2 separate regions of the Homo sapiens genome follow, and region 1 is linked to region 2. A link means that fine-mapping ties the variant in region 2 to the plasma level of a protein whose gene starts in the linked region. Region 2 holds a variant in brackets. A gene starts in the other region. All regions are shown on their reverse strands.

Evidence for each region. PIP is the posterior inclusion probability: the model's chance that the variant is causal. Protein levels are from antibody-based Olink assays in UK Biobank. Linkage for the fine-mapping came from a reference panel and not from the study's own genotypes, which makes the PIPs less certain.
Region 1: it holds the start of CTSS, and the variant in region 2 is fine-mapped to the plasma level of the CTSS protein (UK Biobank, PIP 0.91).

What each region holds. Positions count from the first base shown.
Region 1 is chr1:150,763,502-150,779,924 of GRCh38, reverse strand. It overlaps CTSS (cathepsin S), which reads left to right and starts at 14,147. Exons shown (of 8, transcript NM_004079.5): 1 at 14,147-14,227; 2 at 15,161-15,287. The coding sequence starts at 15,162. RefSeq lists cis regulatory regions at 3,598, 14,201, 14,204, enhancers at 3,526-3,670, 14,129-14,273, 14,132-14,276, 15,207-15,256, 15,968-16,057 and a silencer at 8,817-8,936.
Region 2 is chr12:8,925,267-8,933,266 of GRCh38, reverse strand. It overlaps PHC1 (polyhomeotic homolog 1), which reads right to left. Exons shown (of 15, transcript NM_004426.3): 7 at 2,340-2,832; 8 at 1-704. Among named protein-coding and RNA genes, the nearest start is that of PHC1, 15 kb to the right of the region's middle. The variant T/C (reference allele first, on the strand shown) is at 3,282.

The sequences.
Region 1 (16,423 bases), not on the chromosome of region 2:
CTCGAACTCCTGACCTCGTGATCCGTGATCTGCCTGCCTTGGCCTCCCAAAGTGCTGGGATTACAGGCGTGAGCCACTGCGCCTGGCCTAAAATGTGGCTTAAAATTAATGTTATCTCGCTTTTTTGTTTTGTTTTCCTTTTTTTTTTTTCAGATGGAGTCTTGCTCTGTTGCCCAGGCTGGAGTGCAGTGGCGTGATCTCGGCTCACTGCAACCTCTGCCTCCTGGGTTCAAATGATTCTCATGCCTCACCTCCTGAGTAGCTGGGATTACAGGTGCCCACCACCATGCCCGGCTAATTTTTGTATTTTTAGTAAAGGCAGGGTTTCACCATTTTGTCCAGGCCGGTCTCAAACTCCTGACCTCAGGTGATCCGCCCGCCTCAGCCTCTCAAAGTGCTGGTATTACAGGCGTGAGCCACCGTGCCTGGCCCGTGTTTTACTTTTTAAATATGGCCACCAGAGAACTTAGATTTACTGTGTGCCTTACACTGCATTTCTGTTGGACGGCGCTGTTTCAGAGGTTGTGGAGGATGGTAAAATCATGAATCAGGGACTCAGGGACTTGCCCTTCCAGCATAGTGAACTACATAATTCAGTCCAGCCTTCCCACTGAGGGCAAATAGAAAAGCTGGAAAATACATCAAAAGTATCTACTTGAAGCCCTCAGAGACTTAACAAAGTAGCAAGGACTTACTGGGACAGATTGAAACCTTACATGGCATTGCGGTTTGAAGTGTAATGATGGAATATTTAAGTAACCAGAGAAAGGCTAGCATCTTCCTAGCCTCAGTAGAAAATTCCATCTGCATCTTTATTTTATTTTATTGTTTTCATACCTGCTTCTGGATACCATGTGTCTTTCTATTGAATACCTTCTTACTCTAGCTATCATAAATGTACAAAAATTAATTTGTAAGACCCCCATCACTCAAAGCAATAATAATTTATCACTTGCATTCAATAAAAAAAAATTCTGAGTATCTACTCTATAGAATTGCATGATTGCCTGCCATACCAACACCCTCAGGAATTACTTTCCCTTTCCTCTCTATTGAATTAAAGGTTGATATGAAAGAAGCCAATTATATTTTAGTGAAAGGCAACATAACATAGTGGTTAAGAGCATGAACTCTGGTGCCAGGCAGCCTGGATCCTGATTCTGCCTCTTCCATTTACTAGCAAGGTGATCTTGGGCTAGGGTTAGGGCTTTTGTAAAATAGAGAAAAGAATAATACCTACCTCGCAGGATTTTTGTGGTGATGAAATGAGTCAATATATGTAAAGTGCTTAGAGCAGTGCCTGGCCAGAGTCAGAATGTCTGCTACATGAGAGTTGGCTACCACTGTTGAATCAGTGGGAATGAAATTCAGGCTCATTCAATAGAAGCCCAGTCTCAGGAGCTGCTGGAACAAGTCTAATTGAGGTCAAGTCTATTATGTTTACAGCAGTATTTCTAGTACTGTTTTCCATTGTGTACACATAATTTTTCAGCTACATTATGGACTAAATCATATGAATTTTTATTGACATGTTTAAGAAACAAATAACCACTTTATAATACTTCTTAAGGAGAGTATATTTTTGTTTTTTTTTTTGTTTGTTTTTGAGACAGAATCTCTGTCGCCCAGGCCGGAGTGCAGTGGCGCCATCTCGGCTCACTGCAACCTCTGCCTCCCAGGTTCAAGTGATTCTCTTGCCTCAGCCTCCCGAGTAGCTGGGATTACAGGCATGCACCACCACACCCGGCTGATTTTTGTATTTTTAGTTTCACCATGTTGGCCAGACTGGTCTTGAACTCCTGACCTCAGGTGATCCACCCACCTCAGCCTCCCAAAGTGCTGGCATTACAGGCATGAGGCACTGCTCCCGGCCTCTATTTTTGGTTTTAAACAGCCTCTTTACATGTCTTTTAAAACACAACACTTTTGCAAGTTGGAAACTGCTTGTATGTATAGGACTTAAAATACACTGGTTAAAGAAGGCTATTACTGGCCTGCACTTGCACTTTACAAATAAAATGAAGCAACTGTCATTCATCTTTAGCCTTAGCACCACCTTAGGTATCTTCACTTCCTCTGCCTCTTCTGTTATTGCTGCCATTGGTAACAGGTGCCTCTACCAAAGGGCTGGGCTGACTTACCAGGTAGATGTAAGAAGGAGAAATGACTTAAAGGAAAGTTGTTCTGTGCTCACCTTTCCTGTTTTTAATGTTTGTGGCACTATGCCCACACTTCCACCACTTCCTTCCACAATGATCTTGCTTAAGCCTCCCTAAGTTCCAGTTTCCTCATCTATAGAAGAGGGACACCGCTGCTACCAACACCATCTCATTGGTACAGTTACAATTGATGTTTTCAATGTCCCCGACAATACAGTTAAATAGAAGCTTCAGAATCCTGCCTCATCATCGTACGTTCAAAAGCTTTCATTCTCATTGGTTCTGCAGATTCCTAGGGAAAATTAGTGAACCGTGAAAAGACTCTCCCGTTTCTAGCAAAGGCATTTCTAATATCTTGAATAAAGGCGCTACATAGTTCTCTTAAAAGTAGAGCAACTAATTTGATATTAGTTGTCCTTGAGATTAAGCCATGTTTAGGCATCCATCTTCTATAACTCCCAACTAGATTTTCTCAACCTAAGATAGGATTTGTGCATTTTTTTCTTTCATATCTTCTTAAATACTTCAAATATGTTAGCTGACTGACTAGCCAAGATGCCAAGTTGGGTAGCTTACACCTCTGGTTGCCAAACTTTGGTCACCAGATTCCTGCAAATCCTTCATTCTTTCATCGAATATTTACTGAGTGCTAGATACTGTTCTAGGTGCTTGAGATACATCTGAACAAACAAAAATCCCTGTTTTGTGGGATATTTGTCCTTGACAATATTTTCATTAGTCTTCAGTTAAATGATTAAAATATAGACAATGGAGTGAGACTTTTTTGTTCTGTTTTGTTGGTTTGAGACAGGGTCTCTCTCTCACTGTCACCCAGAGTGGAGTGCAGTGGTGCCATCATGGTTCACTGCAGCCTTGACCTCCAGTGCTCAGGTGATCCTCCCACCTCAGCCTCCCGAGTAGCTGGGATTACAGGCACACACTACCATGCCCAGCTAATTTTTTGTATTTTTATTAGAGACGAGGTTTCGCCATCTTGCCAAGGCTGGTCTTGAACTCCTGGCCTGAAGTGATCTGCCTGCCTCGACCTCCCAAAGTGCTGGGATTACAGGTATGAGCCACCACACCCAGCTGGAGTGAGTTTTTAACAAAACTAAATATAATCAACTTCTAAATTCTGAGATTATTTCCTTTTTATCCTTTTTTGGTGTTAAAATGCTCCTTCAATTTTGAAATGATGAGTGAAGATAATACATTTTAAATACCCTTATTTGATAAACTAAAAAAAAACCCTTAAGTTGGCCCTCTAATATTTTCTTCAAGTTTTACCATTCTGTAAAATCTGAAACTGAGAAACTATAGTAATTCAAGCCAGTATTGCGACTTCTTACAATGCCAAGTCTTGAACAAAATAAGAAAGTTCAAAGAAAAGGAACTTAAGCAGATGCCGTGCCTTCTGAGTCCAGCCCAGTTGCATGCTAGTAAGTGTTTAACAACTGGCTCTCCAGATTAAAACAATAAATAGGCTGGGCGCAGTGGCTCAGATCTGTAAACCTAGCACTTTGGGAGGCCGAGGCAGGCAGATCACTTGAACTCAGGAAGGTGGAGACCAGCCGGGCAAATGTGGTGAAAGCCCATCTCTACAAAAAAATACAAAAATTAGCCGGGCGCGGGCCGGGCGCAGTGGCTCACGCTTGTAATCCCAGCACTTTGGTAGGCTGAGGTGGCGGATTACCTGAGGTCAGGAGTTTGAGACCAGCCTGGCCATTATGGTGAAACCCTGTCTCTACTAAAAATACAAAAAATTAGCCAGGTGTGGTGTCGCATGCCTGTAATCCCAGCTACTCAGGAGGCTGAGGCAGGAGAATTGATTGAACCCTGGGGATGGAGGTTGCAGTGAGCTGAGATCGCGCCACTGCACTCCAGCCTGGGTGACAGAGTAAGACTCTGTCTCAAAAAAAAAAAAAAAAAAAAAAAAAAAAAAATTAGCCAGGCATGGTGGTGGGCGGCTGAAGCAGGAGAATCACTTGAACTTGGAAGGTGGAGGCTGCAGTGAGCTAAGATCACGCCACTGCACTTCAGCCTGGGTGATAGACTAAGACTCTGTCTCAAAAAAATAAATAAAATAAAATAAAATAAAATAAAATAAGGGAGACCTGATTTGTAGAGTTTGCTTATTTTAAGCTACCAATGCAATGCTACTAAAGATGGAGTGAGGATGAAGTGGGTATAAGCAGCTTTCGTGAACGAGTGTCAATACAAGCCAGCTCTGAGACACCGCTGCTCCAGCCTGGTATGAAATACAATATCTAGCCCAGGCATCAAGGATGTTGGTGTGGACTTCAAGTTTCAGTTCCACCACTTATTTCCACAATGGTTTTAGACAAGGCTTTCTAAGTCCCAGTTTCCTAAACTATAGAATAGGGATACTATTGCTACCACTACCACCTCATATGTTGTTGGGAGGATCAAATAAAATAATGGGCAGGAAAGATCTTCAGTGCCCTGTACAATGCCTGGCACAGAAGATGCATAATATCTGTATTTAATTCATTAAAACATATCGATTTGGGTATTTCCTCTTTTCCATATTTGCTAGAAACTTCCTATTTTGAAAAAGAATAACAGAGTTTGAGAGTTCAAAGATAAAATGCACAATTTAATATCATTTATTGAAAGCACAATTTTGCTGCAAGTGCTTTTCTAAAAAGAGTACTGCCAGAGTAGCTCAACAGTCTTTATTTAGTCCAAAAGATGGCCAAGCGCGGTGGCTCACGCCTGTAATCCCAGCACTTTGGGAGGCCAAGGCGAGTGGATTAACTGAGGTCAGGAGTTCGAGACCAGCCTGATGAACATGGAGAACTCCCCCCCCCATCTCTACTTAAAATACAAAATTAACTGGGTGTGGTGATGAACGCCTGTAGTCTCAGCTACTTGGGAGGCTAAGGCAGAAGAATCACTTGAACCCAGGAGATGTAGGTTGCAGTGAGCCAAGATTGCACCACTGCACTCCAGCCTGGGCGACAGAGCCAGACTCCATCTCAAACAAAAAAAAAGGGCGGGAAATAGAGAACATCAAAACATCTCTGATGTTCTTCCCTTTGCTTCTTGAGGTGGCAGCTTAGACCACTGATTCTTAGCCATTCTTCTTTTCTTTTTCTTTTTTTTTTTTGAGACGGAGTCTCGCTCGCGCCCAGGCTGGAGTGCAGTGGTGCGATCCCGGCTCACTGCAAGCTCCGCCTCCCAGGCTCACGCCATTCTCCTGCCTCAGCCTCCCGAGTAGCTGGGACTACAGGCACCCGCTACCATGCCCGGCTAATTTTTTTGTATTTTTAGTAGAGACGGGGTTTCACCATGTTAGCCAGGATGGTCTTAATCTCCTGACCTCGTGATCCGCTCACCTCAGCCTCCCAAAGTGCTAGGATTACAGGCGTGAGCCACCGCGCCGGCCTCTTCTTTTCTAATATATGCATTAAAAAGTTATAAATTTCTTTCTAAGCACTGGTTTAGCTGGATCTCACACATTTTTATATGTCATTTTTAAAAATTATTGCTCAGTTCAAAATATTTTCTAATTGCCATTATGATTTCTTCTTCTTAATAACCATGGTTATTAAGAAGTATATCACTTAAATGGGAGGTTTTCTAATTACATTTTTGTTATTGGGCCTAGCTTAATCTCACTGTGGTCAGAGAACATACTCTAAATGACTTGAATATTTTATGGCCCAGCACATACAGAGTCAATTTTGTTAAATATTCTATGTGCCCTTCAAAATAAATATTCTGAGGCCAGTGCAGTGGCTTGGGGCTGGGGTCCCAGCTACATGGGAGGCTGAGCTGGGAGGATCACTTGGGCCCAGCAGTTCAAAGCTGCCGTGAGCCGTGATCCTGCCTCTGCTCTCCAGCCTGGGTGAAAAAAAAAGAAAAAAAAAAAAAAAGGATTCTGTTGTTGAGGACAGGCTCTAGATATCTTAATTAGGACAAGTTCATTAATCGCATTATTCGAATCTTCTATATCGCTATTAATTTATTCCATTTGCTTATTCTACAAGCTATTGAAAGAGGTATCTCAAAGCCTCCCATTATGATTGCAGATTTTATCTATTTTTCCTTTTAGCTCTGGCAATCTTTGCTTTATGGGACTCTGAGGCCATGTTTTGAGGAGCATACAGATTTAAGATTATAATCTCTTCCTGGCGGGTCCCTTTATCATTTATTTCTTTATCATTATGAAAGTTCCCTCTTTAGCCTCATAATGCTTCTTGCTTTAAAGTCTACTCTGACTGATATTTGAATAATTATACCCACATTTTGCTGTTGCTTGCGTTTGTGTGATCTAGCTTTTAGCTTCCTATTATTGTCAACCTTTCTGTGTTTTTGTATTAAAGATGTTTTTCTTGGCCAGGCATGGTGGCTCATGCCTGTAATCCCAGCACTTTAGGAGGCTGAGGTGGGTGGATCACCCGAGGTCAGGAGTTTGAGACCAGCCTGGCCAACATGGCGAAACCCCGTCTCTACTAAAAATACAAAAACTAGCCAGGCATGGTGGCATGCCTGTAATCCCAGCTACTCAGGAAGCTGAGAATCACTTGAACCCAGGAGGAAGAGTTTGCTGTGAGCCAAGATCATGCCACTGCACTCCAGCCTAGGCGACAGAGCAAGGCTCTGTCTCAAAAAAAAAAAATAAATAAATAAAAATAAAAAATGCCAGGAGCGCGGCTGGGCGCGGTGGCTCACGCCTGTAATCCCAGCACTTTGGGAGGCCGAGGCGGGCGGATCACGAGGTCAGGAGATCGAGACCATCCTGGCTAACATGGTGAAACCCTGTCTCTACTAAAAATACAAAAAATTAGCCAGGCGTGTGGCAGGCGCCTGTAGTCCCAGCTACTTGGGAGGCTGAGGCAGGAGAATGGCATGAACCCAGGAGGCAGAGCTTGCAGTGATCTGAGATCACGCCACTGCACTCCAGCCTGGGTGACAGAGCGAGACTCTGTCTCAAAAAAAAAAAAAAAAAAAAAAAATGCCAGGAGCATTAGTATTTCAAATGAATATCCTAAATGGTAGCACTTGCTCATAACCATCTATCTTAATCCTGAGTACTTTATTAGAAACTTGTTCTGCAAAAGGAACGGACTCAGGAATAATTAGTTGGAACTGTAAAATCTTACCATCTCATGGAGCGATATTATAATTACATTCTATTGCTGGTGTCTTCCACTGTTTAGTTGCCACTAAGTCAGCATTTCCGTACTTATGCATAGGGAAAGTGAGCCATGGGCATGTTAAATCACTTGTTCCAGGCCTTATAACCAATAGATGGCAGAACCAAGACATATGCAAAAGCTTTTAAGCTTTTTACTCAGCCCACGTCCTGACAACAGAAAATACAATAGCAGTTAATATGTCACTTGTTCTTTTTCTCACAAAAGGTAATTCATCTCTATTCTCCCTGCCTTCCATAAGTAAAATTTTGGTTTCTTCTACGACCTACATATTAACCAGGGGTCATGTATATCAGACAAATAAACACAGTCTCTGCTTACTTACTGAGTCCAAAGGCAGGCTGGGAAGAAGTGAGTATGTCCCTGAGAGCCCTGTTTCATTTTGGGATCAACTCAATTTAGTTTCTTGGTAAATCTGGAATTAATTTATGGATTTAGAAATAAACAAAGGAAGACATTTAGATGGCCGCTGCCGTCCTGAATCCGGTTTAGAGTACCACTAGAAAACACAATTAACCCCAAAATTTTTTCCCACTTGGTAGAGGATTACCGGAAACAGGTAGAGACATAATTTCATACACAATTCCATGTAGGCAATACCCAGGAATGGAGACAGAAGGTGTGCTGTTGCCTAATCACCACGTTTATGCTCTGTACTGAGTGTAGATTTATAGACCTCGTCAGACAGAGAAACAATGACTGGAAAAATACATGGTCCCTTGTAAAAGCAGTTGTCTACCATTTAATCTTGATGGAAAGAAATTTGTTCCTATGCTAATTTCTCATTAAGGAAATTGAACTGTCTATTTCTATGGATAGAAATACATATAGAGGTATCAAGGCTAAAAGCAAAAAACATCAGGTATGAGATCAGATGTGTAAAGAAGGATAGAGAAGGCAACCTGAAATTATTGAGAGCTCCACAATAGCTTTCTTCTTGAGTTTCCTGTATTCGCAGCCTGAGAAAAGCACCTTCCCCATTCTAGCTTCTGACACTCCACCCTTGTTTTTCCAAACTCAACACGGCTGTGGATGTCAATACTAGGTTCATCTATCCGGGTACTACAGTTTATTTAAAATGTGCAGGAAGCAGCCAGGCGCAGTGGCTTGCGCCTGTAATCTCAGCACTTTGGGAGGCCAAGGCGGGCGGATCATCTGAGGTCAGGGGTTTGAAACCAGCCTGGCCAACGTGGCGAAACCCTGTCTCTACTAAAAATACAAAATTAGCCTGGCGTGGTGGCGCATGCCTGTAATCCCAGCTACTTGGGAGGCTGAGGCAGGAGAATCGCTTGAACCCGGGAGGCGGAGGTTGCAGTGAGCCGAGATCATGCCATTGCACTCCATCCTGGACAACAAGAGTGAAACTCCATCTCAAAAAAAAAAAAAAAAAGTGCCGGAAACTCAAAGAACCTATGAAAGGCCAGAAAGTCGGTGAGGTTTGTTTATTGTGTAACCACAAACATCACCAAAACCACAGAGAGGACTGCTCAACCTATGATGCCACTGAGCAGACACAATATTTGACATAAACACTACAGTTTGAACAGGTGACACTGGGGACCAGATATTAGAATATCTGCTGCTGCTCCTGCTCCTGCTGGTGCTGCTGCTGCTGGGAGACATCTCTACTGCCATTCTCACCAAAAGGAGGATTTTACATACTTCTGGTTCCTCACTTACCCACTTGCAAAATGATGTTCTATACAGGTGTGCCTGACTGGCAAAGGCTAGGTCTCATGTCTGTGCCTTAACTGCACTGGATCCTTGAAAATGGAGCTTTGGCTTCAACTTGGAGAAGCAAAATTTATAACGTGGGAAATTCTCCAAACATGGGAATATTGTTCAAAAGATGCTAGGTGGCCATAAAAATAAATGAACACTGTATATACTACTGTGGAGTTATCAGAATTTAATTGCTAAAGTATAGTTTCTAAAAAGCTGAGAGCAAATATACAACGAACGCATCGAAGTTTAACTCATTAATTAATAAGGGATCAGTAAGATTAAAGTCAGTTCAAATAAGAATTTGAGGCCGGGCATGGTGGCTCATGCCTGTAATCCCAGCACTCTGGGAAGCCGAGGTGGGTGGATCACCTGAGGTCAGGAGTTCGAGACCGGCCTGGCCAACACGGTGAAACCCTGTATCTACTAAAAATGCAAAAATTAGCTGGGTGTGGTGGTGTGCATTTGTAATCTCAGCTACTGGGGAGGCTGAGGCAGGAGAATCGCTTAAATCCGGGAGGCGGAGGTTAGAGTGAGCTGAGATCGCACCACTGCACTCCAGCGTGGGCGATGAAGTAAGGCCGTGTCTCAAAAAAAAAAAAAAAAGAATTCGACTGACAGAGATCTACATTCTCTATTTCTCTATTCAGTGAAATCTACAATACAAAATTTATTTGCATTGCCATGTATAGGGATCATTTGCATAGTTATCAGTTTTTTACAACTTAACTCTAAAAAGAATCAAACAATTCCTGTAAAGGTCCACTAAATAATACCCAGCACATCACTGAAAGGACACCTGCTAATGTCTTTCGCCTGAATAATTTTTCTTAATAAAATGTTAAGTGATTGACTAAAACAAAAAAAATGCTAAGTGAAAAAAACAAGATAGAGAAAAATATGTGTAATATGTTAGTGTTCACTTAAGATGAAAGAATATTAATATATAGGCATATTTGCATATTTCTAAAAATAGGAAGATAAACCATAAATTTTTTAAATGATTACCAATTAAGGAAAAAAGGAAATCGTGTAAAACAGACAAAAGTAGAGGCTAGAGTTCTTTGAATATACCTCATTGTGATGATTTCACTTTGGATCCACATAAATGTTTTACATAATTATAAAATGAAATTACATAAGTGTAAAAAGCAAGCCCTAAAAGGAAGAAGTGAAATGAAACAAATAAACCTGTGTATGGAGGTGGAGCATAACCATACAGGGAACTATTCCAGGTGACTTCAAAACACAGTAATTGACTTACATCGTTAGCGACATTTGGCTTAATGGAGAAAAACCTGTCCCCCTCCACTTTAAAACCTCTAATTTGTTTTCATTAACAATCTTATTGGCGTAGGCTTGTTGTTGTTATTCTGCAATTTTACAGGATAAATTAAACAAGTACTTGAGTTGATATTTTAGAGAACCCAGATTTTTTAAGCATGTTTGAAAAGAAGTGCAGATATAAGATTGATGGGGTGAGTAAACCCTATAGTCTTGAATTTGAATTTGAAGTATCAGTGTCAGCTTGTGATTTATTTAATTTTTTTAAAAAAGATATTTCTTAGCTCTAGCTACTGAAAAGGCTTAGCAACAATGGTCAATCTGCTATCCCAAACACTGCTAGTTCCTAGATTATGGTATTTAAACATTGTTTCCACTAAAAGGAACCAGAGCTCCTTGGAGAAATGGCTGATTCCAGGTCTGGGGCAGGAATTGTTCAAGACAAACCTGCAATAGCCTGTCATATTAGAAAGAAAGGAAGCTTTTAAAGAGTACTAATATTATGCCAAATATACAAACTCTGTCTGCACCAAAGAGCCAGTTTGAATAAATTCCTACAGACCAAAAATGAGACAATATGAGTATCAATAAGGATAAAACTGGAATGGATTGAAACACATCAAATATGTTTAAATCCATGAATTCATAATGATATAAACATAACTCAATGGTTTCACAATATATGGAGCTTATTTAAATCTCAATTCAAACAAACTATTAAAAAATGTATAAGACAGTCCAGAAAATGTGAACATTGATAGGATGTCTGATGACATTAAGAAATTATTGTCTTAATTTCTTATGACAATAAAGTGGCTCACACCTGTAAACCCAGTACTTAGGGAGGCTGAGGTGGGCAGATTACCTATGGTCAGGAGTTCGAGACAAGCCTGGCCAATGTGGTGAAACCCCATCTCTACTAAAAATACAAAAATTAGCTGGGTGTGATGGCACATGCCTGTAATCCCAGCCACTTGGGAGGCTGAGGCAGGAGAATCGCTTGAACTCGGCAGGCAGAGATTGCAGTGAGCTGGGATCACACCACTGCACTCCAGCCTGGGCAAGTGAGTGAGACTCTGTCTCAGAAAAAAAAAAAAAAGAAAATTATTGTTCATTTATTTTAGATGTGATGATGGTATTGTGGTATTATATTTGTTTAATAGTCTCTGTCTTTTAAAGACACACACAGGGACATTTACGTATGAAATGACAGAATGTCTAGAATTTATTTAATATAATTCAGGTAGTGAGAGTGGGAATATAAATAAAATAAGATTGGCCATGTACTGATCATTGTTGAAACAAGACAATGGTTTCACGGCAGCTCATTTTACTACTATTTTTACTTTTACATGTGTTTTAAATTTTCCATAAGCAGTATCTTTTTAAAAAAAACTGTATGGCTACAAACACAAACATGTCTACTACAGCTGAGATGAATCAACATTATAATGATGTTACTTCTCCCTAAATTTATGCATATATTCAAATAAAAACTCTAATAGCCAGATGTGGGGGCTCATGCCTGTAATCCCAGCACTTCAGGAGGCCAAGGTGGGCAGATTGCTTGAGCCCAGGAGTTTGAGGCCAGCCTGGGCAACATGGTGAAACCCCTTATCTACAAAAAACAAAAAACAAAATCAGCCAGGCATGGTGGTGTGCACCTGTAGTCCCAGCCACTCCAGAGGCTGAGGCGGGAGGATCACTTGAGCCCAGGAGGTCAAGGCTGCAGTGAGCCATGATTGCATCACTGCACTCCAGCCTGGGTGACAGAATGAAACCCTGTCTCCAAAAGAAAAAAGCAAAAAACTCCAACAGAGTTTTTCAGGGAACTTGATAAACTGATTCAAAAAATTCATATAAAGAAGAGTTAACAAGTACAAAATACAAAGACAATGTTTAAAAAGAAGAACAAAGATAGGGTGGCCTAGATGACTTGCCTTACCATACGTGGAGACATATTACAAAGCTGTTTTAATTAAAACTGTGTGATACTGAAGTAGCAAAAGATAAAAAGAACAGCTTCATGAGCTCAGAAACTGACCTATCTATGTATGAGAATTTGGTGTACAATAGAGGTAGAATCAAAATTGGAAAACAAAGAAAATAAGCTCCCTACGTCATACCATACACAAAACTAAATTCCAGGTGAATTAAACACCTAAAAGCAGTAGCCATAGAAAAGATAAATAAAACACTCTCTGAAAGTATAAAAATAAGATGAGTGTATCTTTATTACATTTGGATGAGGAAAATTTTCTTATACAAAAACAGTATAGATTGATTATACGGAAAAGCTGAATAAAATGTTCTACCTCAACATAAAAAAATTTCATATAGAAAAACTCACTATAAACAAGACTAAAGGACAAGTGGAATTTCATAGGCTTATGCAAAGGAAGAAAAAATAAAATAAAAGACAAGTGGAAGACTAAGGGAGGATGTTTTTAAGGGTATATAACTGTCAAAGATTAGAAGCCAGAATATATTTTTAAAACACATACACCTTGGCCGGGCACGGTGGCTCACACCTGTAATCCCAGCACTTTGGGAGGCTGAGGCGGGTGGATCACGAGGTGAAGAGTTCAAGACCAGCCTGGCCAAGATGGTGAAACCCTGTCTCTACTAAAAATACAAAAATTAGCTGGACATGCTGGCAGGTGCCTGTAATCCCAGCTACTTGGGAGTCTGAGGCAGAGAATCGCTTGAACCTGGGAGGTGGATGTTGCAGTGAGCCAAGATCGCACCAATGCACTCCAGCATGGGAGACAAAGCACGACTCCGTCTCGGAAAACACACAACACACACACACACACACACCTCCCACAAATCACTAAGAAAATGCAACAATACAATAGAAAAATGAGCAAAAAAGATGAACAGGAAATTCACAGAAAATTCAAACGGTCAATAAATGTGTGAAAAGATCCTCAACCTCATTAGTAATTAGGAAAATGCAAATTTAAAAGATGATAGTTCGTCTTGCTCCCACCCCACCCAGGTAATCATTCTCAATTGGATATATTTGAGTGTATCCTTTTTTCCATGAATATACTAACACATACACACACACACACACACACACACGCATATTACTAAACTATACATATAGTATATATTAATAAAGACATTTTGAGTTTGATGAACGAAGGAATGGCTGAGTGAGAACCAGACAATATCAGATCATGAATGAGTTGTGTTAAAAGCAGTAAGACAGGTTTTCCTAGGAAATCATACAAGGAGCTGGGATTTGGGGAGCTTTATCTAAATCTCTTTATAACTAAATGTTTTCCATGTAAAAGTTGGTGTTTTTAAAATTCAATTTAATTTTTTTTTTGAGATAGGGTCTTGATATGTCATCCAGGCTGAAACACAGTGGCATAATCATGGCTCACTGCAGCCTTGTCCTCCTAGACTCAAGCAATTCTCCCACCTCACCCTCCCCCTCAGCTGGGACTACAAGCATGCACCACCATGCCCAGCTAATTAAAAAAAATTTTTTTGCAGAGACAGGGTCTCACTATATTGCCTAGGCTGGTCTTGAACTCCTGGCCTCAAGTGATCCTCCCGCCTCAGCCTCCCAAAGTGCTGGGATTATAGGCATGAGCCACTGGGCTCAGACAAGGGCTCTTCTTGATGGCTTACTGTATCCACTTTGTCCCCAAGACCATAGGGAAATGACTAGAGGTGACTGTACTAGCTAGATTTTAAATGAAACTGAAATGAAAGTTCACTTCCTCATTTTGAGTACCTCATGTGACAAGTTCCAATTTCTTTTCAAGTCAATTGAACTGAAATCTCCTTGTTGCTTTGAAATCTTAGAAGAGAGCCCACTAATTCAAGGACTCTTACTGTGGGAGCAACTGCTGGTTCTATCACGTATGTACTCTTTGTTCTTTTTCTCCCATTTGGTCTTCAAACACTCTGTGTTTGTAACTTGTTCTGCCTGCTAGGTTTTAAATCTTTGGTTTCAGGAAGTAAACTAAAAAATCGTGTCGTTCAATTTGCCTCTTCTCTATTTTTAAAAAGTTAATGTCTGCTTGAGCATCTAAGCATCTAAGTTGAGACTGAAACATGGCTTTCTTTGGAATATAATTTAAAGGCTTACATGTTTAAAATTCCAGATGTTTTCAATTAAAAAGAAATGGAAAAGAAAGTAGAATCCAGTTTGAGGGAGCTAGTCGCTGAATTTCTGTTGATGTCTCTTGAATTAAATACAGAAGTGGCATTTTAAAGAGTAGTTAATTGCCTCATTTGAAACAGATGTCTGATCATTAAAAAAAAAAAAACGTAAAAAGGAAAATTACCTACCTAAAGATGTGAAAGCAATAGATGAGAATTGTCTTTTAACTATCTGTAAAGACTGTGGATATTTAAACAGGTCAGTTAAGAAGAGCCCATGTATTCAAAAATTCAGGAGATAAACTGATTTTTCAGAGGTTTGTCTCTCTTAAGGATGATTTTTTTTTTTTTTTGAGAGAGAGAGAAAGAGATTTCCTTTGATTAGATTTGTTGGCAAATCCTGGAAAGTCCCTGTTTTCTAACCCTCTAGATGTGTTTGGTTTACCAGATATTGGGAAATTCCTGGAAATCACTTTTTAAAGTGCTACTAAGCATTGGAAGTAGTATTTCTGACATAAATCTGCAGCTGTTCCCTGTGACTATATATCCCAGGAATTTTCCTGTATAATTCTGTTTATAATAGTCTGTCCCTTTGATAGACTTTGCATTGTTATTTTCTCTTATGAAAACATGTGGTCACAACATATGCAGCTAATAGCAACACTTCCTATGTTACCTTTCCTTACACAGAATGAAACGGCTGGTTTGTGTGCTCTTGGTGTGCTCCTCTGCAGTGGCACAGTTGCATAAAGATCCTACCCTGGATCACCACTGGCATCTCTGGAAGAAAACCTATGGCAAACAATACAAGGAAAAGGTAGATTGGATTGCCACTCGAGCGATATGCTTTTAAAGGAGTACTGTTTTCTACCTCTTAAAATTGTGTTCTTACAGGCAGTGTTTTCAGTAAATATTTAAGCTGGGTGTGGTGGCTCGCGCCTGTAATCCTAGCCCTTTGGAAGGCCAAGGTGAGCGGATCACCTGAGGTCAGGAGTTCGAGACCAGCCTAGCCAACATGGCGAAACCCCATCTCTACTAAAAATACAAAAATTAGCTGGATGTGGTGGTGGGCGCCTGTAATCCCAGCTACTCGGGAGGCTGAGGCAAGAGAATCACTTGAGCCGGGAAGGCGGAGGTTGCAGTGAGCCAAGATTGTGCCATTGCATTCCAGCCTGGGTGACAGAGTGAGACTCCATCTCAAAAATAAATAAATAAATATTATGTACTTGTTTCTTGCCAGATACTGTTCTTGGTACCATACAGCAGGAATCAAAACAAAATTCCTGTTATGGAGCTTATATTATAGTGAGAGAGACAGGAAATAAGAAAATAAACAAGCAGATATGTAGTATGCTAGATGGTGATAAGTGTTGTAGATAAAAATAACAGAAGGCATGGAGAGTAGGAAGGGCCCTGGGTGGTGGTGGTGGTAAGAAGTCTATCTATATGACAGGAGGGTTAGGGAAGGCCTCACGGATAAGGGTGCCATTTGAGCAGAGAATTGATGGAAGCCAGGGAGCAAGCAAAATACATAATAGAGTGAAGGTCTCAGGCCAAGGGCAAATCAGCACAAGCTCCTGAGGAAGGGCCACATTTGGGATGGCTGAGGAGCGAAAAGGCGTTAATACCCACATAGTGTGGCCAGATATTGTTTCTTGACTATCACTTCCCATTTTGTACTTTTGTTTTTATTTCAAAGCACACTTGCTGATGTTAAGACCTTAACCCTACTGCTTTAAATAACTAAGTCCTGTAACTATGTAATATTTCTGTTTGTAAGCTAGCATCATATATTTATTTATTTGACATATTATTTTGTATAAAAATGACACTCTTAGGTCATACACTCTAAGTTTTATTTTTATTTATTTATAATTAAATAATAATTGTGTCTATTTATGGAGTACAATGTGATGTTATGATACAAATATACATTGCAGAATGATTAAATTA
Region 2 (8,000 bases):
ATGTGCTGTCCCCTGCACAGGAGCAAGGGTCATCCCAGGGGCCAATGTGGGAGGGCACTCCTGCAGTGCACCAGGAGCCTGGGATGAAGGTGGCGAGGAGGCCAAATGGGCCTGACCAGACTGCACTGTACCTGGCATCCCCCGGGAAGTAGGTACAGCAGCTGCCAGCTGTGCCAACCCCAAAGCCTGTGCCTGGGCTGTACCTGGCTGTCGAGTGCCTACAACTTGCACAGGGATATGGGGTGGTGGTTGCTGGGCAGCTGACATCTTAGCGGCCCCTAACTGAGGCGGCTTGATAGGTGCTACAGGTGGTTTGGATTGGATGGGAATTGGTGGCTTAGGGGCTGCATCAGGTGGAAGAGACAAGGGTGAAGACTGAAGCATGGGCTGAACGACCAGGGTTTGGGCTTGCTGCTGGGACTGGGAAGGTGGGACCTGCTGAGTAGGTGGGACCTGTGGTGGCTGAGGGGCAGTGAGGGTGGTGGCTTGCGGCTGCTGCTGTTGCTGCTGTTGCTGTTGTTGCTGCTGCTGCTGCTGCGCCAACTGGAGGTGTGTAGCTGTGTGAAGGAGCTGGGACTGCCGGTGCTGGAACTGCTGCTGGTGGTGGATGGCAATCTGCTGCTGGATCACCACCTGTTTCTGCTGGAGGTGGATCTGTTGCTGTTGCTGAATCAGTGAATGGGGCTGGATCTGTGTGTAGGTGGCTATAGGAACAATCCCAGAATACAACAGAGAGAAAAAAGAGCAGAGAATAATAATCATTCTAAATTAAAAGTAAATTCATTTTTCCAAGGTATAACCTAGTTTTGGAATTATGCGGTGAAAAGAAATCTAGTCAGTATGAAACTTGGACATCACTTCGTCCATACTCTTCCCACTCAATCAGACATTACCAACTACTACTAGTCTTAAAGATCTCAGAGAAAGAACTCCCTTGCTCAGTCATTTCAGATCCTGAGTAATTTCTTGTGTCTCTTATCTTTGCCATACTTAAATATTGTATTCTTTTACTCTGTACTCAGCAAAGAAGAATGGTTAGCCCCTCCTCCATTAGACTTGGAGTTTCTCAAAGGCTGAATCCATGTTTTATTCATTTTCACATCCCTAAAACACAGCCCAGGGCCTGACACTGCAGAAGCACTTAATATTCACTGAAAGAAGAGATACCCACAGAGTTAAAGATGTCAACGTCTTCCCACAAATGACTTGGATTTTACAAATCATCAGCTTAGACCACCATCTGAGTCTTGAGAGTCAGCACCTGTCAGCTCTGACCTAACTCAGTTTCCTCCACTGTAAACTGGGAGTGACAAACTCTACTTCTCCATATTGTACCAGATTGTCCAGAGATCAAAGCATGTGATGATAAAGCAATTTAGAAATAGAACTGCTAGAGTATATAAATACCAAGTATAGTAATAACTAACTCTTAATTTTTTTGTGAGTAAATTATCTAAATACATCAACAACTAAGGTACTAGAAACAAAAAAAGGCAAAAATCAACATGACCAAATAAGATACACACATCTAACTACATCTTACCCGCAGTCTGAAAGCAAGTATAAACTATCAGAGTCTTGCCCTGTCACCCAGGCTGGAGTGCAGTGGTGTGATCCCAGCTCACTGCAACCTCTGCCAACCGGGTTCAAGCTACTCTCCTGCTTCAGCCTCCCGAGCAGCTGGGACTACAGGTGTAAACCACTACGCCCGGCTAATTTTTGTATTTTTAGTAGAGACGGGGTTTCACCATGATGGCCAGGCTAGTCTCAAACTCTGACCTCAAGTGATCCACCTGCCTTGGCCTTCCAAAGTGCTGGGATTACAGGACTGAGCCACCGCACCCCGCCTCTCCATTAGTCTTAAGTGCTCTAAGGCATTGTACTGTATCTGCTATACACTGGATCAAGTAACCACATTAAACAGTGAGGTGAGAATTCATCCCTTATAGTAAATGCTAAGTTACATGAAGACAGGGAATCTACTTTTCAAAAATGTATCCCCAGTAATTCCTAGAAAACAGTAAGCAATTCAGTAAGATGTGATGAATGAATAGACAGAGTGATAAAACTGAAGAACTCACAGCCTAAGAAAGCGGACAGGGGAACTTGTAAGCTGACTACTGCCTGGTAGAAACAGATAAAATCTGTATCTGTCACTTGTCCTCCTGACCCTGAACTAATATGTTCAAGGCTGATATTATTCCCATTCCTTCCACTATTCAAGGACCAACAGAAGCGGGGAAAAAACAAAAAGGCAAAGAAAAAAAGGCAAAAAAAGAAAAAAAGGAAAATTTCACATGAATTCTGAGAGAATAATGACATGAGGAATGACAATTTACCTGAGCTAATAAGTGTCTGGCTGGGCGCAGGTGTGGCTGTCCGTGTCAGGTTCATGCCCACATTCTGCTGGCCACTCCCATCTGCTTCTGCCTTCTTGGCTGCTGCACTTTCTGCCTCTGTCTGGCTGCCCTGGCTCACAGTCACTGTTTGGGCTGCAGGCAAGGGCTGCACCACTCCTGTACCCTTTCTGGGACAGCTCCCACCACCCATTCCTGAGGAAGGCAACTGACCCAAACCACCATGTGCCTGCCCACCTCCACCTGGACCCATGGACCCTGGGATGCTATTCCCACTGCCTCCACCAGCTTGACTAAGGTTGAGGGACTGGTTTGTGGCCCCAGAGGAAGCCTGTGCCACCGCTAGGGCCTGGCTAGAGGCCTGGGAGAGGCTAGAGACAGGGGAGGCTCCTGGAGGAATGGCCTTCTGAGTGGAGCCTTGCATCTGAGGTCCTTGAGCTGAGGCCTGTTGATTCCTTACTGCCAAGTTCTGAACCTGAAAGATACGAAAAAACAGATTGAGAAAAGGAGGACTGGAGGCATTAAGGTTAAAGATTCAAAAGCAGCCAGGACTGCTATTGTGTCGTATTCCACAGAATACCTCAGCTCGTATCTCTGCCTTTACCATATACTTTAAGGCCTTCCTACCTCCTAAGGAGGAACTCTGGCTCTGTATCTGATTCTTCAGCCATCTTCACTCACTAGCAAGTTTATCATCAAGTGTGGTCTTTTATTCCTTCAAAATATCTCTTCAATTATCCCTTTCCTCGCCATTCAATCATTCAGCACCTCCCAAAAACCTACTATGCTTCAGGTACTACACTGGATACTGGAAATGCAGAGGAAAGACACAGTCTCTGCTCTTAATGATTACTTTCTACTACAGAAGACAAGAAAATTATCACTTATGACATAATAAGATGTATAGATATGCACCCAGTACCA[T/C]AGGAGTACAGAGAAGGAATATCAACTAAGACTAGGGAGATCAAGGAAGGGCTTCCTAAAACAAGTGATACTGATGTGACACTCAGTAGGTAATGGTGAAGGTGGGGGTTTAAAGATATTGATAACAGCATTTGCAAGGCCAGAACCAAAAAAGGATTATTATTTAGGCTGGGCGCTATGACTCATGCCTGTAATCCCAACACTTTGGGAGGCCAAGACGGACAGACTGCTTGAGTTCAGGAGTTCGAGAACAGCCTGGGCAACACTGCCTCTACAAAAAAATACAGAAAATTAGCCAGGTATGGTGGCAAACACCTGTAGTCCCAGCTACTCAGGAGGCCAAGGTGAAAGGATCACTTGAGCCTGGGAGGCAGAGACTGCAGTGAGCTGAGATCACGCCACTGCACTCCAGCCTGGGTAACAGAGTGAGACCCTGTCCAGAAAAAAAAAAAAAGACATTATTTTAAAATATTATTAAAAAAAATGTATAATTTCTAAAAAGACTGTATTTTTAGAAATTATAAATATTTCATTATGTTTGGGGAGAGTTACAAGGAATGGAAAGAAATAAAGCAAGGAAGGCAGGCTGTGGATAAGGAGGTAGGAAGGTGCTGGGCCAGTAAGGGCCTGGTGTATTGAAACAAGGAATCTGAACTTTAGTTTGGGAACAGCAAGTTTATCTGTCTTATTCATTGTTATATTGCTAGCACCTTCACAGTTCCGGCACATAGTCAGTACTCCAAAATATGGATAAAGGGAAAGAATGATGTCTGCTTAACTGATTATAGGAAGCCAATAAAGCTTATTAATCAAAATAAACATTCACTTATACATTTATACATTTCTGATTGAAGTATAAATCAATACACTTCCTATTTTAGAAAATATTTGTTATCATATCCTAAAGTTGAACATTCACACACCCTCTAACCCAGGAATTCCACAAGACAAACTCTTGCCATGTACCACAGGAGGCATGTGTAGGAATGTTCATGGTGGCATTATTCATTAGCAACCACGACCTGGAATCAACTCAAAGGGCCATCTACAGAAGAGAAGATGAATAAACTATAGTATATTCATACAATGGAATAGTATATAGAAACTACAATTAATAAACTCCAATGACTGCAACAAAACAAATGGATCGTGACAATGTTATTAAGAAAGCACTCTCCAAAAGTGTACATACAGCACGAGTACCTTACACATTTCAATACAATTAAAATATATACATGGTGTCTGGGGTTTGCTTCAAAATATTCCACAGGCAGAGAAGGGCCTGAATGCATTGGTCATGTGTCGATAATTGTTGAAGCTGGATGGTAAGTACACAGGAATTCATACTTTTTCTGTTTTTGTGTACCTTTAAAATTTTCTATAATAAAAAGGGCATTTTAGAAACATAGAGAGATGCAATAAAACCATATAAAAAAGGACCCGAGGGAAGAATGGACTTAGAAATCAGAAGGCTCGTTACTGTGGGTAATGGAAGGCAGTAGACGGAACTGCACACTGCTTATTACATTATTAAAAATTACAGAGTAAATAAATTTTAACAGGTTATGACGAGACCAACAGTGAGAGAGTGTCATGATCCAAGGATTACAATTTTATCAAATTCTGTGTACCAGAAGTACGATTAAAAAATTAGTAGTAACAACATATATTTTCTTATTTAAAAAAACATAGTAAAAGTTTCCTGATAGTAATGTGGAAAAGAACTACAAGTAGGTTAAGACTGAAGTGAAGAAGACCATGTAGAAATCTAGTACAATAGGCCGGTGCAGTGGCTCACGCCTATAATCCTAGCACTTTGGGAGACCAAGGTGGGCAGACTGCCTGAGCTCAGGAGTTCCAGACCAGCAGGAGCAACATGGAGAAACCCCGTCTTCTACTAAAAATACAAAACATTAGCTGGGCATAGTGGCACGCGCCTGTAATCAAGCTACTCAGGAGGCTGAGGTACAAGAATCGCTTGAACCCAGAAGGCAGAAGTTGCAGTGAGCCGAGATCACACCACAGCACTCCAGCCTGAGCAACAGAGACTCTGTCTCAAAAAAAAAAAAAAAGAAAGAAAGAAAGAAAGAAAGAAAGAAAGAAAGAAAGAAAGAAAGAAAGAAAGAAAGAAAACTAGTACAGTACAGGTTAAAATAATAAAAACCTGAATTCAGGCAGGAGCAGTAAAGAGTTGATGGCTTTTGAGAGATATTGACAAGAATCATCAGGATTGGGTGCTAGAGCACATAATATTATCTGGCAATTATTAATATACAGTTTTTCCAATCAGCTTCATTTCCATAATGGCTATTTCAAACTTTCCCACTCTCTCCCTATACCTCAGACTACCTTCTCTTTCTCCTCCTACTCTTCACCTCTTCAGAGAAAACAAAAACCATTATATGAGCATTGCTTCATCAGTTCCACCACCGAATCTATACATTTATCTGCATACACACCCATCATTTCCCCCTTCTCTCCTCTTCCTATCAAAAGGCAATCAGTCCTTCTCTGCACTCTATATTCCACCTCCTCCTGCCATCTCAAGCAGCATATAATATCCACTGCCTCCTCTTCCACTTCTTCTCCACTGGCTCCCTCATCACCATGTAGGAACTGCACATTCCCCTCCCCAGTTCCACCTTCCTTTCCTGGTGCTGCTAAACTCTTAATAGCTGTTTACAGTCACTGTATTCATTCCCACCAGCCATTCACACCCCTCAAACTCATACTACTTTGGATTCACCACCCCCCAAACAACTGAAACAACTCTCCCTCCCTGTTAATAAAACCATCTTTCTTTCTCTCTCTACATTAGAAAGAGATGCCCCCTGCCCACGCATGCGCGCATGCACACATGCACATCTTGTAACATTTGGTTCCCTTGCCTTCGTGACACTACAGTCCAGATTTTCCTATCTGCTGCTCTTTCCCATTCGCCTCTGTCAGCCCACGACCCTCTGTCGACCTTGAACTGCTTTTCCAAAGTGGGGGTTCATCCTACCTCAGGGCCCCATATTAAACGTTCCTCTCCTCAACCTGTACTATCTCCCCAAACATTTTTTTTTTTAAGATGGAGTTTCGCCCTCGTTGCCCAGGCTGGAGTACAACGGCGCGATCTCGGCTCACTGCAACCTCCGCCTCCCAGGTTCAAGTGATTCTCCTGCCTCAGCCTCCCAAGTAACTGGGATTACAGGGATGTGCCACCACGCCCAGCTAATGTTTGTTATTTTTAGTAGAGACGGGGTTTCACCATGTTGATCAGGCTGGATGGTCTCGAACTCCTGACCTCGGGTGATCCACCCGCCTCAGCCTCCCAAAGTGCTGGGATTACAGGCATGAGCCACAGCGCTGGCCTTTTTTTTTAAGATGGAGTCTCCTCTGTTGACCAGGCTGGAGTGCAGTGGCACGATCTTGGCTCACTGCAACCTCCACCTCCCAGGTTCAAGTGATTCTCCTTCCTCAGCCTCCCAAGTTAACTGGGGCTATGGGCATGCACCACCACACCCGGCTAATTTTTTTTGTATGTTTAGTAGAGACAGAGTTTGACTACGCTGCCCAGGTTGGTCTCAAACTCCTGATCTCAGGTGATCCGCCCGCCTCGGCCTCCCAAAGTGCTGGGATTATAGGCATGAGCCACTGTGCCCGGCCTCTCCAGGCAATTTTAAAGACTGAGGAGAGTAAACTAATTTAGTAGATGGGGGACTTCAATTATCATCTATATGCCTACTACTCTCAAATGTTTATCTCCAACCCAGACCTCTCCTCTGAGCTCAAGAACCACATAATAAAACTGCAGTCTCAGTATCTCCTCATGGATGGCTCACAAACACTTCTAATTAGGTCTGCATGTCCAAAACTGAACGTCACTCTAAATACACTCCTACATTCTTCGTCTCATAAACAGCACCACCAGCCACCCCACAGATTTCCTATCTGGCATCTCCTTTAATTCCCCCATCTACTAAATTAGTTCACCCTCTTCAATGATTCTTCTAAGTTATCCTCAAATCTATGCATTTCTGTCCATCTCCATTGCTACCCCCAGTATGAACATCGTCTGTCCCTTAAACTGTTAGAACAGTTATTCTCCCTACAGTCACACTCACACCATATCCGTTTAGTCTCCAAAGAGGAAATCAACATGGTATTTAAAAAGCAAAACAAAACAAAAATACATCCAAATCTCTCTATGACACTTCCATATTTAAAATCCTTCTATAGCTTCCAATTGCTTTTTATAAAAAGCCCAAAATCCTAAACACAGCCCCCAAAGCCCTGAAAGATAAGGTTCCTCCTACCCGTCTAGCCCCACTATGCCAAACTCCAAGAATACAAGACTTTTAATTCCTCTAACAAATCAAGTTCCTGCCCTCCTCAGGACCTTTGGACACACTGTTCTCCTGCCTCCAACACTCTCCTTCCACATTCTTATCTGGCTAACTTCTACACACCCCAAGTTAAATGTCACCTCCTTGACTTTTACACCCCATGCCAAAGCTAAGTTAGGTCCCTTTCTAAATTCTCAGAACACTCGGTACTTTCTCAATTATTTCCCCATTCAGGTGACTATCAGTTTAATGTCTGGTGTTTCAATGGTCTGTGAGCTCCACAAATGCAGTGATCGTGACTTTCTTGGGCATCCAACGCTAAGGAATGTTTGATATATTAATAGCAGTAGTTTCTCCTAAACACTCACTACGTCCAGGCATTCTTCAA